Linked DNA regions of Homo sapiens: all the other regions are linked to region 6. The links come from fine-mapping of genetic effects on plasma protein levels. Region 6 holds a variant in brackets. A gene starts in each other region. All regions are shown on their reverse strands.

Region 1 (4,085 bases), not on the chromosome of region 6:
AAGTTATTAAAGTTGACTCTTCTAAGAAAATACTGCAAGAAAATCACAGTGAGGAAGGGGAACAAATTCTTAGTAGTTTATAAAACTCAGGTATAATATTGATTTAATCAAAAGGCAAAACTGGAGCAAAAGAATAGTCCTGGGCACAGTGTCTAAAGCAGACACACCTTAAACCAACTTTGGAATGCCTTATGATTCATGTCTCAACATGAACAGTTCTAATCACAAGGGAACCTTCTCCAATGCCCTCTGAGCAGTAGTAAAATAACACACAGACTGTGTAATTTAAAGACTGCCTTACTAGCTTAACAGAGTGAATCAGAATATTGAAAACTGGCAAATTCAATAAAGGTTTAAAAATTATGACAATAATATGTTGAATAACCACTGCTATTTTAATGTTTTATTTATTTATTTGTTTGTAATTTTTGTAGAGACAGGGTTTCACCATGTTGTCCAGGCTGGTCTCAAACTCCTGGGCTCAAGCAATCTGCCCACCTCGGCCTCCCAAAATGCTGGGATTACAGGGGTGAGCCACTGTGTCCGGCAAACCATTGCTATTTTAAAACTAGACTATTTCTTAAACTCCTAAATAGCTTTCTCAGATAATAGTAGAAAGGGTACAATAAATCCAAAACAAACACAAGTCTGAAATTTTTCATCTCTAGCCTACCTTAAGCTTATATATTAAATATATAATTATTTATAATTATATAACAATTAACAAATAAACAATGTTTATTTCTCAAACCAAGTAACTTTCTATAAAAAGAATATTTATACTGCTAGAACAAGAAACTGGCTGAACAAAAGCAATTGTCTGATAAATGGCTAAATAAGTAAGGTTTATTTTTACCATATTAGGTTTCTAGAATGAAACAATTTTATAGCTAATCTGACATCTGTAATGTGACAACTGTCTTCTCACATAAATCTCTGGTAACTGTTTATATACTTTTGGGTAATACAGAAAAATGACAAATATTCCAATTTTTAAAATGCAAAATATGTATGTAGATGTATGTAGAGAATGCATTAAAACTTTAAAAGAATTTTCACACATTTGATATTTTGATATACACTGAATTCATAATTATTTTGCCCAACCCCCTAAAATTTCCAAAGAAAATAGACGAGCAAGGCCTTTTCTACCATATGAGAGGAAAAAAACTAGCTAATAAAATCAGAGTATAATATATAACAACTTGCAAGTTCAAATATACCATGCATACTAGATTTTTCTCCTTGTTTACTTTTAGAAATTTTGAGAAGTTTTAATTAATTTTAAAAGAAAAAAACAGCCACAGACAAAACCAGCTTATAATAAAAAGGCAAAAAGGGAAGTTAATGGTTAAACCCATGCATGCACCTAGCCACTCAGCAAACCTCTCTGAAAGCCCCACAATATTGCCTTCTCAAACCATTTCATTGTCATAAACTCAGGAATAATATCCTAGCTGTAATCTAGAAAAATGTCTGTAGTCCTATGCCCCGCCTGAGGGTGGACAAAAACTGGGTCATAAATGAATATTTGCTACTCACTCTTCAGTTTCCTTGTCTTCTGCTGAAGTGCCTGGCAAGTGTTCGATAATTCAGTATTTATAGTTTGAAGGTTCCGTTGTTCCGAAATTGCTTCCTCTAATTTATGCAGTAAAGACGTAGCTTTTTCACTGGCAGTGTGGGCTTCTCGATCTCGATCCTTACCCTGGACATGGATAGTTAGTGCTGGATTGTAGCAGTGTGGCCAGGAAAGAAAGCAATGGAGTGCTCACTCTTATGATGCAGGCAAAACTGAAAATGTGTTTTTCTTCTCAGGGAAGTGATAAGCCTCTCCTGAACTTCTGCAATTCTGTGTTTGCATGGGCTTGGTATGCCTGAGCTATTTCTACAGCGGTTAAAGTCCTGATATGTCAAGTTGCCTCTTTCTGCAGAGTCGCCTCTTTCATCAGCAGGCTGTTGATACCGCCTCTCTTACAACTCCCCCTTTACTTCCTCTGCTCACTGTTAGTCGCTAGGGACTGAACTTGCAGTTCCTCTTTGCTTTTTTTTTTTGTTTGTTGTTGTTGTTCCTCCTCCATTTTTATTTCATGGTTTGCAGGGCATCTGAGGAGATGTCCCCTGAATCTAATGTAGCCATGAGCCACCCTACCTGCTCCTCCACATCCTCCAGCCGTTGGCTGGTTTCTTGGAGCCTCTTCCTAAGGATGCCTTCCTGGTTGACAGCATCTTCCTGTAGTTGTTTAATGGCTTCTAGTTGTTTCTGACTGGAGTTAAAAAAAAAAAAAAAAAAAAAAGTCCAAACCGCAAGCTGTCAGTGACATTTCAACTAAGAGTCACCCTGTGAAATTATGACAAACTCAAACTTAACACCACTTCCTTAGAGATCAGAGGAAAAAGTGAAAGTATTTACATATAAATGCTTCACAAATATAAAATCTTAAGCAAAGCTTATTGGTCGCTTAGCCTGACACCCTCACTTTACAGATAAGGACTTCTAGTTTCATCTTTTACACTGGTGTGTTCAGTTCCCACCAGCTGCATTCATAGCACTTAGCATCAGTTGCCAGTTGCCAGTTACTCAGAAGATGGCTCTACAATGAGGTCAGGGTGACAGGTGCAACATTTACACATCACAGCTAGCTTTTACAGAAAAAGAAAGGAATGGGGTAAAGGTAGGGGGAGGGAAAAGAAAAGGAAAGAGAGCTTTGTTTCATGACCTTAGCCTTTCTCCTTAAGGGTTGTCAATCATAGTATAAACACGTGCCACGAGCACAGGAAGGACCGCCCCCAGGCACAGATGAAAGCTGGCGGTTGATATTTCTACTTTAGTCCTCTTTTTGCTGAAGCTTTTCTCCCCATCACCCTTCCCCACCACAGATCTCATGGTGCCATTACGTTACACCTCATTTGGATCCAATTCTAATCTCTAAAACATGTAAAAATGCACTTACTCTCTGTTAGCAGATGAGATTATTTAATGTGTGTTACATGCCAGTACCTCAATGATTATCTGGAAACAATCTGACTTGAATATGGACCTTAACTCAAAGTGGTGATAAATGTCGGGAGTTGCAAAACAGCAAGGAAGACATTGTCAGCCGTAGGCCTTGTGCATGCCTCTCAAACGTTAACATTTAGTCAGAATGCCACTGCACACTGGCACAAATCCAGCCCTGGTTACACGAAGGACCACATGAGAGGCAAGAATGGTCTCACAGAATGCTTACCATACTGGTAAACAAGCAAACAAAATCCTAAGCAAAAATAAAAACTGCCTACATCACCACACTTTCCACTGAGCGTCCTTCAATAGCTTATCGTTGTCTCTCTCACTCTCTTTTTCTCTCTTTTTCTTTAACTGTGGCAGGAACATTTAACAGGAGATTTACCCACTTAACAAATTTTTAAGTGTACAATACAGTATTATTAACTACAGGCATAATGTTGTACAGCAGATCTCTAGAACATCTTCATCTTGCATAACTGAAACTTTATACCTATTGAGTAGCAACTCCTCATTTCCCCTCCCCTAGCTCCTGGCAACCACTATTCTCTCTCTTTCTATTAGTTTAACTATTTTAGATACCTCAGAGAAGTGGGATCGTGCAGTATTTGTTGTTCTGTGACTCACTTATTTTACTTGGGATAGTGTCCTCCAGGTTTATCTATGTTGTCATATGTGGCAGAATTTCCTTCTTTTTAAAGGTTGGATAATATTCCCTTGTATTTATATACCAAATTTTCTTTATCCAATCATCCGTGGACATTCAGGTTGTTTCCAAATCTTGGCTATTGAGAATAATGCCGCAGTGAATATGGGAATGCAAATAGCTCTTCCAGGTGCTGATTTTAATTATTTTGGATAAATACCCAGAAGTGGGGTTCCTAGATCAGATGGTAGTTTAATTTTTAATATTTTGAGAAAACTCTGTAACTGTTTTTTTTTGTTTGTTTGTTTGTTTGTTTTTTTTGAGACGGAGTCTCGCTCTGTCTCCAGGCTGGAGTGCACTGGCGCGATCTCAGCTCACTGCAACCTTTGGCTCCCGGGTTGAAGCGATTCCCCTGCCTCAGCCTCCCGGGTAGCT
Region 2 (4,070 bases), not on the chromosome of region 6:
ACTATGGGAGAGGGCTGCACCAAGCATAGCTGGAAAAGAGCACAGAAAAGCTCTCCCAAGTGGCTAGGATGTGCCCAGCTTTCCTTCCCCGTTCCCTGCCCTCCCCTCCCCTCCCCTCCCCCCCCCTTTCCTCGCAGATTCAGAACTGTTGCTCCCAGGGATCCTGGGCTTTTGTTCTCTGGAAGCTTAAACCACCACCTGTTTTGCCTTTATTGTTTAAAGGGTATCTCCTGTTGTTCACAAACTACCACAGGTTGAAGCGGACAAAACTTAAAGGCAGCAGGAGCTAAGTATGGTACTTCCTTTTTTTAAAACAACAAAAACAACAGAAAATACTAATAGTAAAACATCAATGCTTTTCCATTTTCCCTTTTTTATTTCTTTTCTGAGGTCCCCTCTAACACTAACTACCCCCTCTTTACCTGTTAATCCTACCATTAGTACTAATAAAAAGTTATCTTTAACGTTAATTATAACTTGTTATATATCTGTTTTTCTTAGTTTGAAGTTTTTACAGTCTGAGGTATCCTCTAAAGCAGTTTCTCAAACTTGAATATGCGTAAGAATCACCTAGGGATCCTGTTAAAACGCAGATTATGATTTAGAAGGCCTGGGGAAGGTCTGAGCTTTACCTGAGCTCCCAGGTAAAGCCCTTGCTGCTGGGCCTTGGACCACACTTGAAGTAGCAAGGCCTTACAGGGTTTAGAACAAATAAAGTGCATACACACAAAAAAATGATTGCTGGATGCTGCTTTGGTCTCTCTTACTCTGTATCTTGAGCTTTTCTTCAATACATCTTTTTCCACCTTTTCCTATGCATAATTTATAGCCAACACCTGACAATCATTCCTTTGTGTAATTACTTAGTTGTGCTCTTCCTTCCCTTTTCTTAGTCACCATTCTCACTGAGAAATGCGTCATTTCATGAGTACTCCAGTTACCCCCAGCCTCTTTCTACTAACATCTACCTTGAAACATCAAGAACTGGTTAAATAATCATTTTTACCCCCTTCTTGCTGAGCAACCTATAGTAGCTTCCTACTACACACATTAAATTCATATTCAGAATGAGAAGCTTCAAGACATTTCACCAACCCTTCCTTCTCCTCTGCCAATTTCTCTTTTTGCTCCACTTGGAACTCTCTGCATATTGCCCAGGTATACTTAGTTTCTCGAAACTCCTTACAGGACATTTTACTTTGGGACTGTCTTCTTTCATTCCTTTTTAAAGACATGCTGTATCGCTTTCAAAAAATTCTCAATTTTTACCAATTCAAAAAAAATTTCCTAATTCATTTCCAGTTGAGTCCCGTATTTAAAACAGTATTATCTAGGTGCTAATATATGTCTTATTATTCTTATTTTTATATGTCTTAACATTCTTTTTAAAAATATTTTCAGCCTCTCTAAAGGATCAAAAAATTAACCTTTAAAATCCCTTGAAGAGCATTTTAAGAGAGAAAATATTTGAGGTTTAGTAACACTTACACATTGTACCACCTACCAGCTCCTATTCTACTAGGGAAATAAAATTTAGATGCAGCTAAAATTTAGTTAGGGCCCAAACTCACATCCTATCTAAAAGGTTTCTGTTTTCCTGTCATTGTTTTCTACCCTTCGCATTTTGCATTCAGTAGGGTTGCATTTTTCTTAATAGTTCTTGGTGATGCAAATGCAAAAGAAATGAAATAGGGCTCTCTCATACTACAATTTCAAGGAAAAGGAGACTACGAGGCCCATTCAGCGAGGTGCAAGAGGCCTAGATGCAGCACACCCTGCAACCGCCGCATGCTCCAATTTCATCTTAGGGTTTTCGTACAGCTCCTCTTTTTTGGATGATGCAAACCGCGCAAAAGCAGCATTCAAACCTCCCCACCCTGGAAACGATACAAGAACATGAATCTTTACTGCCACTTTCTCCCTAACACGCAGCCAAGGGAGAGAGGCCCGGATACCCGCCCCCAAAACCGCGTCCACAACAATCATTTCCTCCCTCCCCGCCTTTTACATACAGTACACATACAAATACACACACGCAGAGAAGCCAGCAGGGGCGGGCCGGGCCCGACCACTCCGCAAACCGCAGGGGGAACTTGCGGCAGGCCGAGCTATTTTCGCCCAGTCCTTTCTTCTTCGCTTGCGTCTTCCTCTCCATCTGCATGCACCTGTTACATGAAAGCGAACTTGGGGACGTAGGGTTTCCAGAAAATCCGCTTCGGAGCCACACAGCTTCGCCGGGTGCTGCAACATCCCCCCTCTCTCGGTAAACAGTTGGTCGCGCCCCAGTGCTAGCGGGCGCCGAGCGGGAGCCGCGCGGGAGCAGCGCAGCTACGGCGGCGGCAGCGGCGGCGCGGTTGCGATTCCGAGCCGTTGAGACGCCTCTGCGGCAGCTGGTGGCGCAGGTGGCTTGCGTGGACGCGGGTAGAGGCGACCGGCCAGCAACCGCAGCGTCGGCGCCCGCGGCCCCGGCAGGTGAGCGGGCGACGGGGACTCGCCCCGCCCCCCCCTCGGTGGCGTCGCTCCTGGCTGTAGCGGGGAAGTGGACGCGGCCCGCCCGGGAGCCGAGGGGGCCGAGGCTGCAGCCGCTGGGCAGCAGGTTGCGGGGGAGGCCTTGCGTGGGCGGAAGGGGGCCGCTCGCTTCTCGGAATCCCTGCCTTTTTCTCTCCCATGCACCCCCTCCCTTTTGGGGCTTAAGCTCGGTGGAAAAAGCCCGGAGAAAGATGGGGCGGGCAGACGGGCGATTTCTGGCCGGGCAGCATCCCTGCTTCAGGTGGTGGCGTCTCTTCGGTGGCGGGGTGGAGGACCTGCTCCAGCGCGGAGGCAGCGCACTGGCGGGGGAGGAGCGGGAGGCGGCCGTCCCCTCGCTCTCCCACCCCCACCCGCCGGTTCCCCTCCCCCTCCCCTTGCGGCCCCTCCCTTCGGGGTTCTTCGCTTTAACCGCCCTCGGTGCTCTCCCTAGCAGGCGCGTCGGGACGCCCCGAGGCATCCTCCCCCGCCCGCGGGCCCGGTAGCTGGGCCCGCGTCCGCCGCCCGCATCCCCGCGCCGCCGCATCTCCTCGCCGCCTCCCGGGCTTCGGACCCCCGGTCTCGCCCCCGAAACATGACTCGCGATTTCAAACCTGGAGACCTCATCTTCGCCAAGATGAAAGGTTATCCCCATTGGCCAGCTCGAGTAAGTGATTTGTAGCCCTCGCGCTTAGCAGTGCTACCCTCCTCTCCAGAGGCCTGCTGCCCACCGTGTCTCTTTATTTTTTCTTCTGTCCTTTCTCTCCCTCGCTTTAGTCTCATTTGTAACCTGACCTTTCATTTTAGTTTTTTGCCCAATAATCTCCCGTGTAATTATGAAAATCCAGACGTTTCTACATACCTGTGTATTTCCCTATGGTTTATTGGCAGACTTGGACAGATTTTCTTCCTAGGAAATATTTAAATGCGTTGCTAGTTAATATTCCATTGTAGGTGAAATAATGAAGAGTGAATTTTTGTTTAAAAATTAGTGAAACATTGACATTTCCATAGTTTTGGATCAAGTACAAAATATCAATGGAATTTGTGCAGATTACACACAAACACTTGGATGTCAGAGAAGTGCGTATGTGATTAAATTGGATTTACAGGGTTTTAAAAAAAATACCTTGTACTTGATGAGGCCTTCTGGATTTGCTTGTTTAATACAGATTCAGGACTGGATATTCTTGAAAGTATTACAGTAGTTTAGTACCGAGGAAGGGCCAGAAAATTCATTTCTCCTTTTTTATTTGAGATGTTTATGACCTTGAAGAAGTTGTTTTACCTTTTTGTTTCCAATAGGCAAAAAGGAGGTGTGGACCAGATTCCTCAGTTCACATCTAGTGGTACAGAGAAATGATTAAGGACCCAGGATGTTTTGTGACATTGAGGAATTGAGACTGTTTAAAGATCTACGCTCCATTTTTAGAAAAAGGGTTCTTTTTGTTTATGGTGGTACCCAGGCTCTCAAACAGAGATAGATAGGACCTAAGATATGTTGCAATCAATTAGATTAGGTAAACTCAAGATCCTTTAAAAATATACTTACATGGGGTTCTGAA
Region 3 (4,085 bases), not on the chromosome of region 6:
CCTGAGTCCTGGGCTGGGACTGGTGGAACTTGGAACAAGATTTGGTGCTGTCTTCAGAGAGCTCTTCCAGAACGTCCCCAAGGAATGATTTACCGGGCCCTATGCTTTGCAGGGACCCCTCTTCCACTCGGGCACACAGCTCTGCCAGGTCAATGTGTCCCCACTTCACAGGCACATGCAGAACTCGCATGGGGAGCTGAAGGGAGACGGAGATGGGCTCGAATCCCACTCTTCGAGAGGTTTCTGCGAGGAGGCTCCAAAGGGCAGTAGGGTCTGGACCAGAGAGGAAAAGGCTCCCCAGGGAGAAGAAATGTGGGCAAGGGACAAGCGGGACCGACAGGGGGCACTGCCGGCACAGCGAGGCAAGAGCCCTGCCTGCAGGGAGACAGGTGCCTGCCAGGCAGTGGCTGGGCCCAGCCGGGAGTTGGAGGCCACGAAAGCCTGGACCATCTGACAGCAGAGAACCAAGAGGCCCAATTAGGGCTTTAGAGCTGGAATGCGCCATTTCAAATCCGGTGGCAGGGGAAAGTTCAGTCAACCAGGCGGCTGCCTTGCTCGTAGACACGGCATTTATCTGGTGGTTAGCTGTGGGGCTGTTTAGCTGTATGCTTGGAATTGTATAACACGATTCCCACCGGCCAAGACAGATCAATGACCCAGACGGGCTGGAGGGCCAGAAATTAAAAGCATGACGCTCATAAGTGGGCAGCGGCCACTGTCTTGGCCACCGTCTCTGCTGCCCTGCAGGGGGGGCAGCCAGCAGCCCAGAGCCCCTACTACCGAGAAGCTCCAAATCCATACTCCCCTCTTCCTGGCCTCTGGGTCTTCCAGGCCCCTACCAAACCCCAGATTCCATGATGTGCTTTTCACCTCACACAGAAAAGCAGGACAGTCAGGTGCGAGGAGGAGGCTAATTGTTCCAGGAGCAGCCTTCAGGAGCAAAAGTGACATGGGGACGGGTTTGGATCTGTTTGTGTGTAATTTGGAAATGTCCTTCGATGGTGCAGGCTCGTTTCTCCAGCCTGGTTGCTGCACCAGAATGTCTTTTGTTTTGGAAATGATTACTCAGCCTCCTGCCTAAACCTGTTTGGGACCGTCCAGACCTTCTTGCCCACTTCTGGTGTTGTGTGCCAGTGGTGGGCTGACCCCAGCAATAGATCTCTCCTGCCTTTCCAGAGGGTCCCCACTCCACTGTGTCCTCAGCCTCTGCTCTCCTGCTCCCTCTGCACCAAGGATAGAGACCCTCCCAGAACTCACACCAGGCCCCTTACTCTAGATGCTGGGGGAGGCTGGGACTGGGGACAGGAGCTACCTGATCTTTTGATTTTAGGGAAATCCTAAGCTGACCTCCCACAGTCCTTCCTCTCCAGCCAGGCACAGGTGGAAATGTTTAAATGGGTTGGGTTGGCCAATCTGGACTAACAGCACGGAGTGGGCCCGATCCCTTCCTTTCCAGTGGTCCTCCAGGAAGTCAGGGCACCTGGGCCTAGTGAGGGGGTTTGGGGTATGTGGGCAACTCAAAGGCATGGCATGGCATGCGGGGTGGGGTGGCATTCGTCCCTGATGCTTGGTGACCACGTCCCATTGCTGGGGATCCCTGGGCCTGGCAAAGAAAAATGGCCCCCAGGGACAGCGAGGCACAAGGGCAGGGGTCCTGTTAAGGGTCACCTGGGTTGATCCGCCCCCAAGATAGCTTGGAGGTGGGGAGGGGCAGCGGGCTTGGGGCTGCCCTTGAAGGGACCAGGGCAGCACTGGGTTCTGGGATCTTCCGTGTGTACCCCACCTCTTCTGTGCCCCTGCCCCGAGGAGTTGGCGCTGAAGGCTGCAGGGTGCTGACCGCCGAAGCCCACCCGGTCATGGCTCTCCCCGCTCCGCCGCCCTCCCCGGCCGCGCGACAGCCAGAGCCCCCTCCCATGCCGCGCGCTGCGCGCTCCGCTCGAGCTGCCACCGCCGCCCGCGCCGCCGCCGCGTGCTCCTGCTGCCGCCTCGCTCCAGCCGAACGAGCCAGAGGAACGAGAGAGAGAGAGAGAGAGAGAGAGAGAGAAGGAGGGCGGAGAGAGAGAGAGAGAGAGAGAGAGAGAGAGAGAGAGAGAGAGAAGGAGGGCGGAGAGAGGAGGGAGGAGAGAGAGAGAGAGAGGAGGCGAGGGAAGAGCGAGCGCGGGGCTGCTCCGAAGCCAGCAGAACCTCCTCGGACAGCGGCCCCAGCCGGGCCCCAGCAGCTCGCGTGGTCGGAGGAGAAGCAGCTGCCACAGCTGCCGCCCGAGCCCGGCCTCGCGCGCCCCTTGCCGCTGGCTCGCCGGTGCCTGTGCGGCCCCAGGACGCCGCTGCCCGCTCGGCGGCCGGGATGCAGCCGGGGCATGGCCGCCGGCCCCCAGTCACCTGCCGCGGGGAGCGCTGAGCCCGTGAGTAGCCTGGCCTCGTCGCCCGCCTCGCTCTGCGGCGGTCATTCCCATCGGGCTGAGCTGGGGGAGGGGGACATGGCCGCGGAGGGGCGCATGGGACCCCGCAGTGGGAGGCGGGCTGCTGAGCGCGGCCGGGGCTGACCCGAGGGCGCGTGGGGTGGGGTGGCGCCCTCGGGGTCAGGGGTCCCTGCGCGGGGTCGGGGTCCCTGGGTCCCTCCGGGGCTGGGGTCTGGACGCTCTGTCCGGCCGTGGGCCAGAGGGGCGATTTTGTGAATGGGAAGGCCCGGGGGTCGGGCTCCATGGAGACGCCAGGGAGTCCCGCGCGCTGCGTGGCGGTGGCAGTGGCGGTGGCGGTGGCGGTGGTGGTGGCTGTGGCGGCGGCGGCGGCGGCACAATGCCCGGCGCGGGGAACTCCCCGGCGGGGGGAGGCAGAGGCGCGCGGAGATCCCGGCCCCGCGGGGCGCGTCCGAGCAGGCAGCCGGAGCCCGCGCGGGTGGGAGAGAGGCTGGCGACCCGGCGGTGGTGCAACGTGCGTCTGTCGCGGCACCCAGGCCCGGAGAGAGCCCTGCCGGGGTCCTCTGAAAGGAGGGTCGCTGAGAGGTTGATGACCCAAAGGAGTTGTGGGGAGGAAGGGGCTGCCACAGCTCCCCAAATAGGAGCGGGGCCCGCAGCACCGCGGTGTGCGCGGGGGCCGAGCAGCGAGGGGCGAGCGGCGCGCAGGGCCCTACAGGGGGCGGGCTGGGGGCGCTCCGGGCCGAGTCCCCAAGCACGATAGGAAGGCTGGAACGGGAGCAGAGGCTGCCTCTCTGAAGCCTCGGCCACCCCCAGGGCCTCGAGCAGCGCGGCCGGGCTGGGAAAGCCGGGCACGCCCCTGGCCCAAACTTTCTGCCCTGGTGGCCCCGGGCGGTGGTGGGGCTCGCCCGGGGCGTGTTGGGCTCGCACGCTCGGGAAGGTGGTCTTCTGTGGCGTCTCGGGGTGGCGCGAGGCCAGTGGTCATTTTGGTGCTGGGGGTCGCAGCCTCCCTCCCCGGGACGCGGAGCCTCCCCTGGCGCGCAGCCCTGCAGTGTCGGTGCGGGGACCGAGACGCGGCGCCCCGCGTGGAGGGGCATTGGGAACCTGTCGGGTCCCCAAGCGGCCCTGGGATCCCTGGTATCACGTAGGGTGGGGGTGGGATGTTCCCGGAGTCCACTGGTGGGGGCGGGGGCCCAGCGAGGTGGGGAGAAACTCCTGGACAACAGAGCTGCCTCCCCCTCCCCTTTCCGTTCCAGCTTTGGCGAGGTACCTGATTTATTTAATGATCACTTTTAAAAAGGAGTCCCGCGGAGCCGCTAGTCCCGACGCGCGAGACACCCCACGGTGGAGGCTAAGGACAGAGACCCAAGGGATCCATCCCTGGGTTTAAGTCCCCCTTCCTGCCCCAGCTGGTGGTGAAGTCGCTTCTCGGGCGCGCAGGTTGCTAATTTCCTGCTCCAAACGCAGGTTGGACTCGGGGACGCCTTGGGCATGCACCCGGGCGCCCCGGGCACTTAGCGTGGAGCAGGTAGGAGGCTAATGGAGTGGGGTCGCCCGTAATGAGGTCTTTCAGCCGGAAGCCGGCTTCGGTTTTACTGGTCTGCAAAACATAATGGAAAAAAAAAGTATAAACATTGCGGCAGAACCTGCTCATTAAGTGTGCATCGCGGA
Region 4 (4,085 bases), not on the chromosome of region 6:
TAGATGTTGACATGGTTGTGGTGAAAAGGGAACACTTTTGCACTGCTGGTGGGAATGTAAACTAGCACAACCACTATGGAAAACAATATGGATGTTCCTTAAAGAACTAAAAGTAAATCTGCCATTAGATCCAGCAATCCCACTAGCGGGTATCTACAGAGAGGAAAATAAGTCATTATATGAAAAATACACTTCCACACGCATGTTTGTAGCAGCACAGTTCACAATTGCAAACATATAGAACCATCTCAAATGCCCATCAATGCACGAGTGGATAAAGAAAATGTGGTATATATATATAACATGGAATACTACTCAGCCATAAAAAGGAATGAAATAATGGCATTTGCAGCAACATGGATGGAGCTAGAGACCATTATTCTAAATGAAGTAACTCAGGAATGGAAAACCAAATATCATATGCTCTCACTTTTAGGTGGGAGCTAAGCTATGAGGACGCAAAGGCATAAGAATGACACAATGGACTTTGGGAACTCAGGGGGAAAGGTGGGAGGGGTGAGGGATAAAAGACTACACTTTGGGTTGGCTGGGCGCAGTGGCTCACGCCTGCAATCCCAGCACTTTGGGAGGCCGAGGCGGGCGGATCACGAGGTCAGGACATCCAGACCATCCTGGCTAACACGGTGAAACCCCGTCTCTACTAAAAATACAAAAAATTAGCCGGGCATGGTGGCGGGCGCCTGTAGTCCCAGCTACTCGGGAGGCTGAGTCAGGAGAATGGCGTGAACCTGGGAGGCGGAACTTGCAGTGAGCCCAGATGGCGCCACTGCACTCCAGCCTGGGCAACAGAGCAAGACTCCATCTCAAAAAAAAAAAAAAAAAAAAAAAAAGACTACACCTTGGGTAGAATGTACACTGTTCAGGTCATGGGTCCCCCAAAATCACAGAAATCATCACTAAAGAACTTATCCATGTAACCAAACACCATGTGTTCCCCAAAAACTACTGAAATAAAAATTAAAAATATAGTTAAAAAGAACGGGTGAAGTTAGCCAGTTGTGGGTGCACATGCCTGTAGTCTCAGCTACTGGGGAGGTTGAAATGGGATGCTTAAGCCTAGGGGTTTCAGTCCAGCCGGGCAACATAGCGAGACCCCATCTAAAAAAAAAAAAAAGAAAGAAAAGAAAGACGGCCGGGCACGGCGGCTCACGCCTGTAATCCCAGCACTTTGGGAGGCTGAGGCAGGTGGATCACGAGGTCAGAAGATCGAGACCATCCTGGCTAACATGGTGAAACCCCGTCTCTACTAAAAATACAAAAAATTAGCCAGGTGTTGTGGCGGGCGCCTGTAGTCCCAGCTACTCTGGAGGCTGAGACAGGAGAATGGCGTGAACCCGGGAGGCGGAGCTTGCAGTGAACCGAGACAGCGCCACTGCACTCCAGCCTGGAAGACAGAGTGAGACTCTGTCTCCAAAAAAAAAAAAAAAACCTAAAGACAAGAAGGGGTGAAGTCAACTGCTGGGCTTTTTTGTTTCTCTAGCCATTGTGAAGACAGGAGTGAGTTGCCAGATTGGCATATGTTGCATCCCACTGAAGGCTAGTGGACATGAATCTCTAGGGAACAGTCTCCCCACTGCATACTTTCTTCAGCTGTGCTTGGCTGTTTGGGAGCTAACAAAGAGAAAAGGTGCATTTGGATTCACACAGCGTTGGTATTCTTACCAAATCCATGTGACAAAAAGGCAAGGGGGCAAAAGAGCTTACAGTAGTGGCAAGAGTGTTGTTAAAATTATAGATTATGGAAAATATGCAGGCCTAGAAGTAAACAAAGGAGAAAGCCCTCAGACTGTGAGAAAGTGGAGAAGTCAGTGGCCTAGAGCTACCAAAAAGGTAGAAGAGGGGCCACGGAGGGGCCATGCAAGTCTGCAGACACTTTTGTTTTCAGACACCTTTATTCACGTCCAAGACAATCAGGGAAGGGGATAATGTTCGGTTTAGAAGGTAGAAAAACACAACTGGGATCTGCAGCTTTGAAGCCACAAGTAGATTCATATCTCCGGTCCACCACTTACAAGATATGTGACCATGGACATTGATTTACACTTTTTGAGTCTGTTTTCCCTTTTTTAAAATTAGGAGAATAATACTATCTTATAATTGGTGTGAGGATTTAAAGAGATAATGCATGTAAAGCGCTTAACACAGTGCCTGGCACACAGTAAGAGCTGAACACATGATGTTACTGTTATATTTGGAAGAGAAACCAAGGCAGGGGTACAATGAGGACAACTCTGAGCGCCGAAGTACTGTAAGGTGGAACTTTTGGATAGCTAGGCGCATGCGTCTGTCTATGGGCGCTCTCCTAGCGAGGACGCTGCGCATGCGCCGGAAGTTGCAGCCGGGAAGCCTGCGAGGTCGGTTCCGCCCGACTCTAACATGGCGGCGCCCTTTGTCTGCTCTGGAGTGCCGTCCCCGGCCTTCTCGCGGCCGTGATGCACCTCCCTCTGCGGTGGGGTCCGGGACATGGCAGGTGAGTGTCAACAATCGCCCGGGGCCGGGGAAGTCCCGGGAGCCGGGGCGGAGGCGGCGGAGGATGGGGCGCGGTGGGACGCCGGTGACGGTTGTGTGGGGGAGGGGAGGGAAGTGGAATGGGACGCCAACCGGGGCTGAGGGGACACCGCTGGGCGGGAGATTGTGGGGTGGCGGGGCGGGGGGCGTCGCCGGGCGTGCTGGCGGGGAGTGGGCGGCCAGGCGACCGCCCGGGCGAGGGGGCGCGTGTCACCTCCCGGGCTGGATGACACCCCAGCTGGTAGCATCTCCGCCCCCGCCGCACGGCTGTCACCGCCCCTTGACCCCGCGCGCTGTCGAGGGTGGGCGTTCTGCGGCCGCGAGGGAGCGCAGTGCCGGGGCAGCTCCTGTCGGCCGGCCGGGGCGGGAGGGAGCGGGGCTGCCCGGGCCTAGGAGGAGCTGACAGAGGAGGCCGACGCTGTCCCTGTATAAAAGCATTTCATTCATTCATTCGTACTGCGGACGGTGGTTCAGCACCTGATAGATGGTGAAGCTAGAGCGAGTGATGCGGGCGGACTCGATCCTCCAGGATCCTCGATCCTGGAGTTAGGAGTGTGAACCGTGGAGCCCAGCAGCGGGGTTTGAATCCCCATTCCCTGCTGTGACCTTAGGCACTTTTGGCTTTTTCTCTCTGCCTGGGTTTATTCATCCTTTAAGCAGAGATGATAATAAAATCAGCCTCCTAAGATTGTAATAAAGGGGAAATGAGGCTCCTAGAACACTTATGGGTACAAAGTAAATGCTGTGTGTTTGTTGCTGTTATTAATTGTATCACCATTGTCACCCAGAGCTCAGAGACCCATGTGGGAGACATACAGGTAAATCAGCAATTCTGATACTGCTGCGAGGGCAGAAAGCCCTCCTTCCTCTGAAGCACGGAGTAGAGACACATCACTCAGCCTAGGGGGAATCCCGGGAGGCTTCTGTCCCCCAGAAAGCTAAGATCTAAGGGAAGCTCAGCGGAGTGAGGCAGGAAAACGGGTATTCCCAGTTAAGGGTGTAGTTTGTGAGAAAACTCATCTTCGTAGAGAGAGGAGAGAGAGATCAGGCTAAATAAAGAAGCAGACTGGGCCGGGCTCGTTGTCTCACGCTTGTAATCTCAGCACTTTGGGAGGCCCAGGCGGGCAGATCACTTGAGGTCAGGAGTTCGAGACCAGCCTGGCCAATATGGTGAAACCCCCGTCTCTACTAAAAATACAAAAATTAGCCGGTCGTGCTTGCGCGCGCCTGTAGTCCCAGCTGCTCAGGAGGCTGAGGTATGAGAATCGCTCGAACGCAGGAGGCGGAGGTTGCAGTGAGCCGAAACGGCGCCACTGCACTCCAGCCTGGGCGACAGAGCGAGATTCCGTCTCAAAAAAGAAAAAAAAAAAAAGCAGCAGCAAGCTGTGGTCTGGTCTTAGGGGACGTTGTAAACCTAGTTAAGGACTTTAAACTTTAGGTTAATGGGAAGCCATTTAAGAATCAGATCTGTGGCCAGGTGCGGTGGCTTACTCTGTAATTCTAGCACTTTGGGAGGCCAACGTGGGATGATCATTTGAGCCCAGGAGTTTGAGACA
Region 5 (4,085 bases), not on the chromosome of region 6:
CTCCTGACTCAGCCTCCCGAGTAACTGGGACTACAGGTGCATGCCACCATGCATGGCTAATTTTTGCATTTTTAGTAGAGACAGGGTTTCACCATGTCGGTCAGGCTGGTTTTGAACTCCTGGCCTCAAGTGATCCGCCTGCCTCGGCCTCCCAAAGTGCTGGGATTACAGGCGTGAGCTACCGTACCTGGCCTGCTATGGACTTAAAAAAAATTTTTTTTTGAGACAGTGTCTTGCTCTGTTGCCCAGGCTGGAGTGCAGTGGCATGATCATGGCTCATACTGTATCCTCAAATTCCTGGGCTCAAGAGAGTGGACTTTCTCCAGGCCAGTGTGTACACAAGTTCCCTCCCACCACAAGGCATTTACACCTCAGCTATTCCTGACCAGGGCAATCTGCCATCCATCTCTCTTTTTTTTTTGAGGCAGAGTCTCGCTTTATCGCCCAGGCTGGAGTGCAGTGGCACGATCTTGACTCATTGCAACCTCTGCCTCCCGGGTTCAAGCAATTCTTGTGCCTCAGCCACATGAGTAGCCAGGATTACAGGCGTGCGCCAACATGCCCAGCTAATTTTTGTATTTTTAGTAGAAACGGTGTTTCACCATGTTGGCCAGGCTGGTCTCGAACTTCTGACCTCAGGTGATCCGCTAGTCTCGGCCTCCCTAAGTGCTGGGATTACAGGCGTGAGCTACCGTGCCCGGCCCATCCCTCTCATTCTTAACACTTATTGCGGTGCTAAGCATATAGTCACTTTTGTGATTCTTTGATTTGTCTACCTTACTAGAGTGTAAGCTCCAGGAGGGCTGAGAGATGGTGCTCACCATTCGAACACCAGGAAGCACCCTGAGTACCGGATTAACAGTTGAATTAATCAAGTAAGAAATGACTGTACCACGAGTTCGAGTACCAAAGCTGACCGTCTCAGTACAGACAATCGCTAAAGGCCTGAGTTCCAGCTCAACTAAGAGGCTGTAGGGTCCCTTTTCCAGGCGCTCCCCCGAGGGGCTGGTCGCAATCCACCCCCGAGACTCGCAGCAACCTCCTTGCCCCAGGGGGGGCCGCGCAGAGCCTAGCCACGTGGCGGGAGACTTAGGAAACTTAAAATACCCGCTACCAGGAAGGGCGTGGAGGTAAGGGAAGCGGGAATTACAAAGTTCGGCCCCTGCGAGCACACTTTCTGGCCCAACCCACTGCCCGGATGAGGAAAGTGAGGCCCAGGGGAACTGAAGTCGCAGTGGGAAGGCAGAGATTGCGGCTCCTCCGGTACCCCTGGCCGCGCCGTCGAGCACTGCGGGACCCGGCTCCGGGCGCCTGCCGGGTCGCCTGGGGACGGGGCGCGGGCCGCGGGCCGCTGATCTCCACATCTTGCACGCGGCCCTCGCACACGGCCCACGAACGCTTACCTGGCCGCTCTGCTCCTTCACTTCCCGCGCCGCACGCACATAGCCAGCCCGCAGCAGATGGTGGTAGATCAGGGGAAGTAGCTCCCGCCGCTTCCTGGCCTCGGCCATACCCGCGACCCCCGGCCGGCCGGCTACCTGCACGCCCCGCCTTAGTCCCCGCCCGCCACTTCCCTCGCGCCCTTAGACCTCGCGCGCCACACTTCCGGCTCCTCTTTCGCTCCGGCCGCGCGGCGCGCCGGGAAACGTAGTCCCCTCTCCGGGAGTGGCCGGCCCCGCCCCTCAAGGCGAAGGGGGCGGAGACTCGTGATCAACAATACCGCCCATTGGCGCGGAGCATGCGGGGCTAGACAGGGACCCGCCCCCGGGGCCGGCCGGGACTTGGACGACTCTCTTTTAATCCTTCCGGCTGGCTTCTTGAAGAGATTTATCTTCCTTGTTAATTCTCTGATGGCTGGGTCTGCGTTTTACTCATCTCTGAACTCCCTAATCTGGATCTTTCTCTAGATCCGAACTTTGTACTGCCATTACCTGCTCATTTATCCATTTCGCACGGTTTTTGGTGCCCATGAACCAGACACGAATTGCCAGTTTATTCATTGATTCATTCGCTAACTGAACAAATCTGTAATAAGCACCTAACTTGGGCTAGCACCCGGCTAGGCTAGGGGGATTCAAAAGATGCATAATACATGGCAGTTGCCCTCAAAGCTCACAGAGACGACTGTCCGTAACCAAGCAACTATAGTTCAATATCTTGTGTGCCTTGTCAGGGACAGATGCAGCCTATGGGCGCCCCAAGGAGGAGCACCGAACCCCAGAGAGATATCTAAGCTGAGGCATAAAGACACCCGAAATTGCTGGGTGCAAAGGAGAGGACTGGCAGAGGGCACTGCATGAGTCTAGGCATGAGAAAACACCCTGCTATTGCCTGGGAACCCTAAACCCAGAACCCCTAGTCTGCGCTGCTGGGCTGTCCAGGTGGGGTGGGGTGAGGTGGGGAAGAGGGAACAAATGAGGGCACATGAGGATGAAGAAGTAGACAAGGCCTACAACTCCCCCACCCCCAACAGAGTTTGGACTTTGCTCTGAGGGCATTAGATAGTCTCTGACTGGCTTTTCCGAGGAGGTTGACCCTGTTTTGTGTTTTTAAAAGATTGCTAAAACCAAAGCACATACCATTAATACTAAATGTGAGGCTGTTGTAGTTGTTGAGGGAAGGATGGCAGGGAAAAGGTGAGGTAGGCTGGAGAATGTTAGAGTGAGCTGTTCTTAACTTCACCGACCCATTGAGAATCTGAGGGCAGCATGTTTCTTACGGGCGCAGGAGTCCCTAACCCTAGGAGGTCCAGGTATGTGGTTATCTTTGTCTTGAACTTGAATGGAAAATGTTATGTGTCTGTACACATTCAACATTTCCCATTTTCTTGAGCAAATATTTATTGAGTACCTACCATTGGGGATGGAATAGTCTCTACTCCTATAGAGCTTACAGTCTAGTGATGGAATTGTCTCTACTCCAATAGAGCTTACAGTCTAACGGAGGAGACACATACTAAACTAATAGTCATACAATACAGTGTTACAAACAGCGGGTAAGTGCAGGAAGGAAAAGGATAGTGTTTTCTTATGTAATAATATAGTGTTTAAAAGCTGCACTGGAGTCACACTGCCTGGGTTCAAATTCTGGCTTTGCCTCATTAACTAGGTGACTTTGGGCAAGTCACTGTGACTCAGTTTCTTTATCTGTACAATGGAGATAATTATAATTTCTACCTCACTGGGTTGTCATAAGGAGTAAATGAATTCTCAGCAGAAATGCTTAGAGGAGCTCTGAACAATAGCGCTCTCTGTGTGCGTGTGTGCTATTATTGTGAAAGCATATAACAGGAAGGAGGGATCTATTTTTTTCTTGGGAGTTAGGGAAGGATTCCCTGAGAAATTAATGGTTATGAGGAAACCAGAACTGTGTGTAAGGGAGAGTCAGAGAGAAGAAACCTGAGCAGAGGGAAGAACCTGTGCAAAGGGCCTAGGGCAGAAGGTACAGCTGAGAGAATAGACACAAAAAGGCCTTTGTAGCATAGTCCGGAGGGAGAGCAGGGGGACTGGGGAGTGTAGAAGGTGGGCAGAGGGCAGACTCCATGTGAAGGATTGGCCACATCAGGGTTTTTTTTCCTCCATCCTAAGAGCCATTGGAAGCCACTGACGGTGTAAGCCCAAGAGGTACAGGATGAAATCTGAATTTTACTGTGACCTGTGTGCCTGCCCAGTGGAGAGTGGAGTGTGTCTGGTGGGTATGAGTAGATGTGGGAAGACAAGTCAGGGTTAGGAGTGCAGGCAGGCATCCAGGGAGAAGACAGTGTATGTGGGGGGGGGGGGCGGGTGGTAGGTGGCGGGGGCAGCGGGGAGGGTGCTGGTGGCAGTGGAGTTGAAGAGAGTGGAAGGTTCCCAGAGTTAATCAGGAACTAAAGTTTTCACAGAGGTGTGTTGGAATGGGAGGGGAAGGAAAAGGCAATGTCAGAATGGACCTTGAGGTTTCTGTGCAAACAAGTAGGCAGTATTTTTCACTGAGATAGAAAAAACTAGAAGAGGACTGAGACAGGGGGGTGGTTTGATTGAGGAGAGGAGGATGTGGACAGAGAGGTGAAAGTATATATTCTATGTTAGACATCTTGAGCTTGAAAT
Region 6 (4,085 bases):
AAATTTGTTCCCCTTGTTCTGGCTTTACTGATGACAGACAACATAGTCTCATACTGTGGCTGCCTTTTTAATCTTCTTTACTTAATGGTCAAACCGCTCCAAACCCTGCTGACATATTCCTCTTGCTTCCCTCTTACCCTCAAGGTCAAGTATAAATCAGACTTGAACCTGACCAGAGGTGTTGGCTGGACCCCTCCTGGCTCCTACAAAGTGGAAATGGCTCGGCGGGCTGCGGAACTGGCCAACGCAAGGGGCCTGGGTCTCCAGGGAGCTTACGTGAGTAGCAAGCTGCAAAGCCACCCCTGGCTTGCAAGGCCATGGGGAAAGACAAACTCATTGTTTCTTTTCAAAGTTTATTTTTGGCCAAAGGTCAGCTAGCTCTAAAGAAGTGTGAAACGCAGCTCAAACAAGGCGCCTAATTTCATGGGTCTGAGATGACCAGGCAGATGACACGCAGGTTAAACTTCCTGCAGGGCTTTCTCTGAAGTCACAGCCATTAGTTCTGCAGAGGCAAACCTACCGGGGCTACATCAATCCCGGGCCAGGGCAGCCCAGGCTGTGCTGACTGCTTGCTCGTTACATTCGCAGAAAGGGTCAGGGACTCGCTGGATATGACAGTCTGCATTTTGAACCCTACTTTGTTCAGAAGAAAGAAGCCAGGTCTAAATGAGAGATTGGCTTTGCTTTCTCATTCCTGCCTTGAAGGCCCTTTTTCTTGGGGAGGGTAGAAGAGGGGAAAAGGAAAGGGAGGGTGAGCCTGTTAAATGCTCCCTGTGCTTCTTAGCGTGTCCTGTGGGAACCGGGGCCGGGAGTGGGGGTGGGGGAGCTTCATTTTAACTTGGGGTATGTTTGATTTCAGCAGCGGGGGGCAGAAGCAGTGGAGGCTGGAGATCATCAGAGTGGGGAGGTGAACCCAGATGCCACTGAGATTCTGCACGTCAAAAAGAAGAAGGCCCTGCTGTTGTGAGCCATGTCCACCCTGATTCCTGAGAGGCCAGAGAGGAAGTTTGTTCACCAGAGACAGGCTTCAGATGGCTTTGATTTCGGCAAGCTGGAATGGCCCACCAGCCCATCCCAGATCTTCCTTTATTAAAATAATAACTCTGAAAGCAGATGGAGAATGTTGTATTTGTGGTCCTCTCTGATACCTAGACGTGGATGGCTGATTCTGTTGAGTGCCTCGAGTGTCTGGGCTGAGGAATAAAGATGTGATGGTGGTTCCCGCTGATGCTGGGGATTCTGGAGTCTGCATTTGCAGGATGCCTGTGGTGGAGGCAGTCTCTGTGAACACTGATTTTCTAGAAGGTACAATTGGGTAAGGAAAGCAAACATACTATGTTGTGTTGATTCCATCATTCCTTGGGTTACCAAGGGAGGCAGAAGAAGCCTGGTGATATTGTGCAAATGCTGGTCTGGGAAGGCCCAGGCTGGGTGGCAGTTGTCTCTGCTTAGAGTAGGGATAGTCTACTGTGTGGTCCCCTGGAGGCTCTGGAGGTGTCCATTGTTGGCCATGAGGCCTCCCGGTGTCAGGGTGCCAAGGAGAGTGGGCTCTGAGGTCCAGAAGACAGTACCTTAGAAGCCACTTTCACTTTTGATGGTGGCTTTGATCCAATTCAGGAATTTGGTAACTTGGGTGTAGACCCCTGGCCTCTTC[C/T]CACACTCCAGGCCCCAGCTCACTATCCCATAGACGTAGTAGGTGCCGTCCTTCTCACAGGTCAGGGGGCCTCCAGAGTCACCCTAAGGGAAACAGAGGCATAAGCTCATCCTCGTGAACCAGAGACATCTGGAGATGCCCCCACCTCTCTCCAGGGGGTGTCAGGGAGGGATGGGGTGGAGTCCCTTGCCAGCCTCCGTGGGCTTCTCTGGAAAGCAGTGACAAGGCTCTCCCCACATCTCACATGATACAAGACTCTAAGGGAGAGAAGATAACAGTGTCCTCCGTCCCTGAGTCCACGCGGGCTTAACAGAGGAGCCGCACAGCTGCACTTCCCAACTCTCAGTGATGCAGATGTTATGACTGTGAGTTCTCGGGGGCCCTCAGCACACATAGGGGAGGAGGTTGGGGACTCCAAGGCAGCGTGGCCTAGGTGCTCAGCATGGTCTATGGGGTTAGATCTCCTGGGTTTTAAGCCAGGCCCTACCACCTGCCAGGCATGTGACCTTAGGCCTCAGTTTCTCACACTGTAAACCATAGATAGCAATAGATCCCCATCCCCCAGGGTTCTTGTGAAGATTGTTTGTAAAGTATATAGAACAGTGCCTGGTTCATATTAAACCCTCACGGAAGGTGGCGAGGATGATGATGGTGAGGAGAAGAAGACATTGAGGGTGATAGCTCTCAAAAACTTAATACTGCTTAAACACTACAACTGACAGGTTTTTAAAAAATGAATTCTCTATTTTAAACTTAGCCACGACCTTGTGATCTTATAGATAGATTTCCATTTTATAGTTTAGGCATCTGAGATTGAAGAATTGCTTTCATCACTGATAAAAGCCATACAGTAAGAGACAGAAACAGGTTTCAATTCACAACTATTTGTTTCCAAAGCCTGCAAGTGAAAGCCTTCAATTATCTAGGGAATTGAATGAGGTTTTTTTTTGTTTGTTTGTTTTTGTTTTTTTGAGACAGGGTCTCGCTTTGTTGCCCAGGCTGGAGTGCAGTGGCACCCTCTTGGCTCACTGCAACCTCCGTTTCCCACGTCCAAGCGATTCTCCTGCCTCAGCCCCAGTAGCTGGGACTACAGGCATGTGCCACCATGTCCACCTAATTTTTGTATTTTTCTTTTAGTAGAGACAGGGTTTCACCATGTTGGCTAGGCTGATCTTGAACTCCTGACCTCAGGTGATCTGCCCGCCTCAGCCTCCCAAAGTGCTGGGATTACAGGCTTGAGCCACCACGCATGCCCAGCCTGAATGAGCTGTTTTCTTAACCATCTTCTGGGAAGGAGTTTAGGGCAAATTGCACCCATCTGCCCCTCCTCTGAGTAGGTGAACATCCTTGGCTCACTGGGAAGAGACAGATAGTCACAGGAGAGCCACAAACCCTGGAGAGAGGAACCTTGATGTCCCATCCCAAAGTGAGTTCAAGGCCAGCAAATCATTGTGGGTTCCTTTGTACGGGGAGGCTCCCTGAAGGAGTTGGGATTTGAATGTTGGCATGCTGTTTTCCAGGACATTTAGAAGGCTTATGGGGACAACAGTCAGAAAATTCTAAATGGAGGTGTTCCTGGGATTCTAGAAAGGACCCTGTGTGATGTGATCCCTACAGATAAAGGGACTATGGGGAATGGGCTTTGACTTGGGGCAGGGCCTGAAGTCACTTTAGCATTGGTTGATGGAGCCACCACCTTCTCTCTCTGCAACAGTGTCTCTGAGTCACAAGCCTCAGCAACTTGGAGTTCTGAAAGGCCCTAGGCTACAGATATACTTAGTTTTCTAGGGCTAAAACACCCCCCCCCCCCCCACACACACACACACGCACACATGAGTCCTAATCATGAGTTAATATTACTGTGAAATCTCTAGCTCTAGGCCTTCTTCTTTCTCCTTCTAGCCACTGGTCTTCTGGACAGTTCCCTGTTTACTGGGATTCTCAGAAAGGCTGCCCTACACTGAGGCCACAAGCCCCTTTGGTGTCCTGCAGACTGTATTGTTCAAATCCCAGCCCTGCCACTGGCCACCCAATTGCTATAGGCCAAGATAACTTCTCTAAGCATCTGTAAAATGGTGATCATGACATCACCTTCACCAGTGTGTTGTGAGAGTTAAATTAGACAGTGCAGGCAATGTGACCTCTGTGGTCATTATGCTGAGTCATCCTGGGTTGATGCGGATGCAGATGCACCAGAGGGCCAGGGGGCAGACACAGCTCACCTGTGTCTTAGCTTTACCACAGGTGGACCTCTGAACCTAGCTCCCAGCCCAGGGCTCTAAGGGTCCTCTGCCTAGTGAAACATCCTGCTAGCCTCTCCTACCACAAGCACCACTTGGAGTCTCTGACCTGGCAGGTGTCTTGCCCAGGTTTCTGAAGATTTCCTGCACAGATCATACTGTCATCAATCATGTGGTCATAGAGTTGGCGG

Direction of the effects. Alleles are on the strand shown, and positions count from the first base shown. The strength of an association depends on the size of the effect and on how common the allele is.
In carriers of allele C in region 6, the plasma level of the protein whose gene starts at base 1,793 in region 1 tends to be higher than with T alone (weak association).
For the plasma level of the protein whose gene starts at base 2,319 in region 2, allele T in region 6 goes with a lower level than allele C (weak association).
For the plasma level of the protein whose gene starts at base 2,177 in region 3, C is the high allele of the variant in region 6 and T is the other (weak association).
For the plasma level of the protein whose gene starts at base 2,373 in region 4, T is the low allele of the variant in region 6 and C is the other (weak association).
With allele C in place of T in region 6, the plasma level of the protein whose gene starts at base 1,561 in region 5 is higher (weak association).

Evidence for each region. PIP is the posterior inclusion probability: the model's chance that the variant is causal. Protein levels are from antibody-based Olink assays in UK Biobank. Linkage for the fine-mapping came from a reference panel and not from the study's own genotypes, which makes the PIPs less certain.
Region 1: IRAG2 starts here. The variant in region 6 is fine-mapped to the plasma level of the IRAG2 protein (UK Biobank, PIP above 0.99).
Region 2: PSIP1 starts here. The variant in region 6 is fine-mapped to the plasma level of the PSIP1 protein (UK Biobank, PIP above 0.99).
Region 3: RBFOX3 starts here. The variant in region 6 is fine-mapped to the plasma level of the RBFOX3 protein (UK Biobank, PIP above 0.99).
Region 4: ZBTB17 starts here. The variant in region 6 is fine-mapped to the plasma level of the ZBTB17 protein (UK Biobank, PIP above 0.99).
Region 5: it holds the start of TCOF1, and the variant in region 6 is fine-mapped to the plasma level of the TCOF1 protein (UK Biobank, PIP above 0.99).

The regions. Positions count from the first base shown.
Region 1 is chr12:25,050,414-25,054,498 of GRCh38, reverse strand. It overlaps IRAG2 (inositol 1,4,5-triphosphate receptor associated 2), which reads right to left and starts at 1,793. Exons shown (of 22, transcript NM_001366544.2): 1 at 1,543-1,793. RefSeq lists enhancers at 1,919-2,288, 2,329-2,438.
Region 2 is chr9:15,509,219-15,513,288 of GRCh38, reverse strand. It overlaps PSIP1 (PC4 and SRSF1 interacting protein 1), which reads left to right and starts at 2,319. Exons shown (of 16, transcript NM_033222.5): 1 at 2,319-2,472; 2 at 2,960-3,172. The coding sequence starts at 3,101. RefSeq lists enhancers at 29-647, 1,300-2,252, 2,253-3,206 and silencers at 2,334-2,413, 2,434-2,643, 2,654-2,713, 2,844-2,893, 2,994-3,193.
Region 3 is chr17:79,609,143-79,613,227 of GRCh38, reverse strand. It overlaps RBFOX3 (RNA binding fox-1 homolog 3), which reads left to right and starts at 2,177. Exons shown (of 15, transcript NM_001350451.2): 1 at 2,177-2,402.
Region 4 is chr1:15,974,389-15,978,473 of GRCh38, reverse strand. It overlaps ZBTB17 (zinc finger and BTB domain containing 17), which reads left to right and starts at 2,373. Exons shown (of 16, transcript NM_003443.3): 1 at 2,373-2,491. RefSeq lists enhancers at 2,009-2,508, 3,400-3,509 and silencers at 2,510-2,609, 2,650-2,979.
Region 5 is chr5:150,355,173-150,359,257 of GRCh38, reverse strand. TCOF1 (treacle ribosome biogenesis factor 1) reads right to left here and starts at 1,561. Exons shown (of 27, transcript NM_001371623.1): 1 at 1,404-1,561. The coding sequence starts at 1,511. It overlaps LOC105378226 (a long non-coding RNA gene), which reads left to right and starts at 1,838. Exons shown (of 4, transcript XR_944407.3): 1 at 1,838-2,752; 2 at 3,588-3,690. RefSeq lists silencers at 1,134-1,353, 1,434-1,773 and an enhancer at 2,374-2,543.
Region 6 is chr10:113,585,857-113,589,941 of GRCh38, reverse strand. HABP2 (hyaluronan binding protein 2) reads right to left here. Exons shown (of 13, transcript NM_004132.5): 12 at 4,004-4,085; 13 at 340-1,737. The coding sequence ends at 1,573. NRAP (nebulin related anchoring protein) reads left to right here. Exons shown (of 42, transcript NM_198060.4): 41 at 145-276; 42 at 863-1,228. The coding sequence ends at 967. Among named protein-coding and RNA genes, the nearest start is that of HABP2, 35 kb to the right of the region's middle. The variant C/T (reference allele first, on the strand shown) is at 1,655.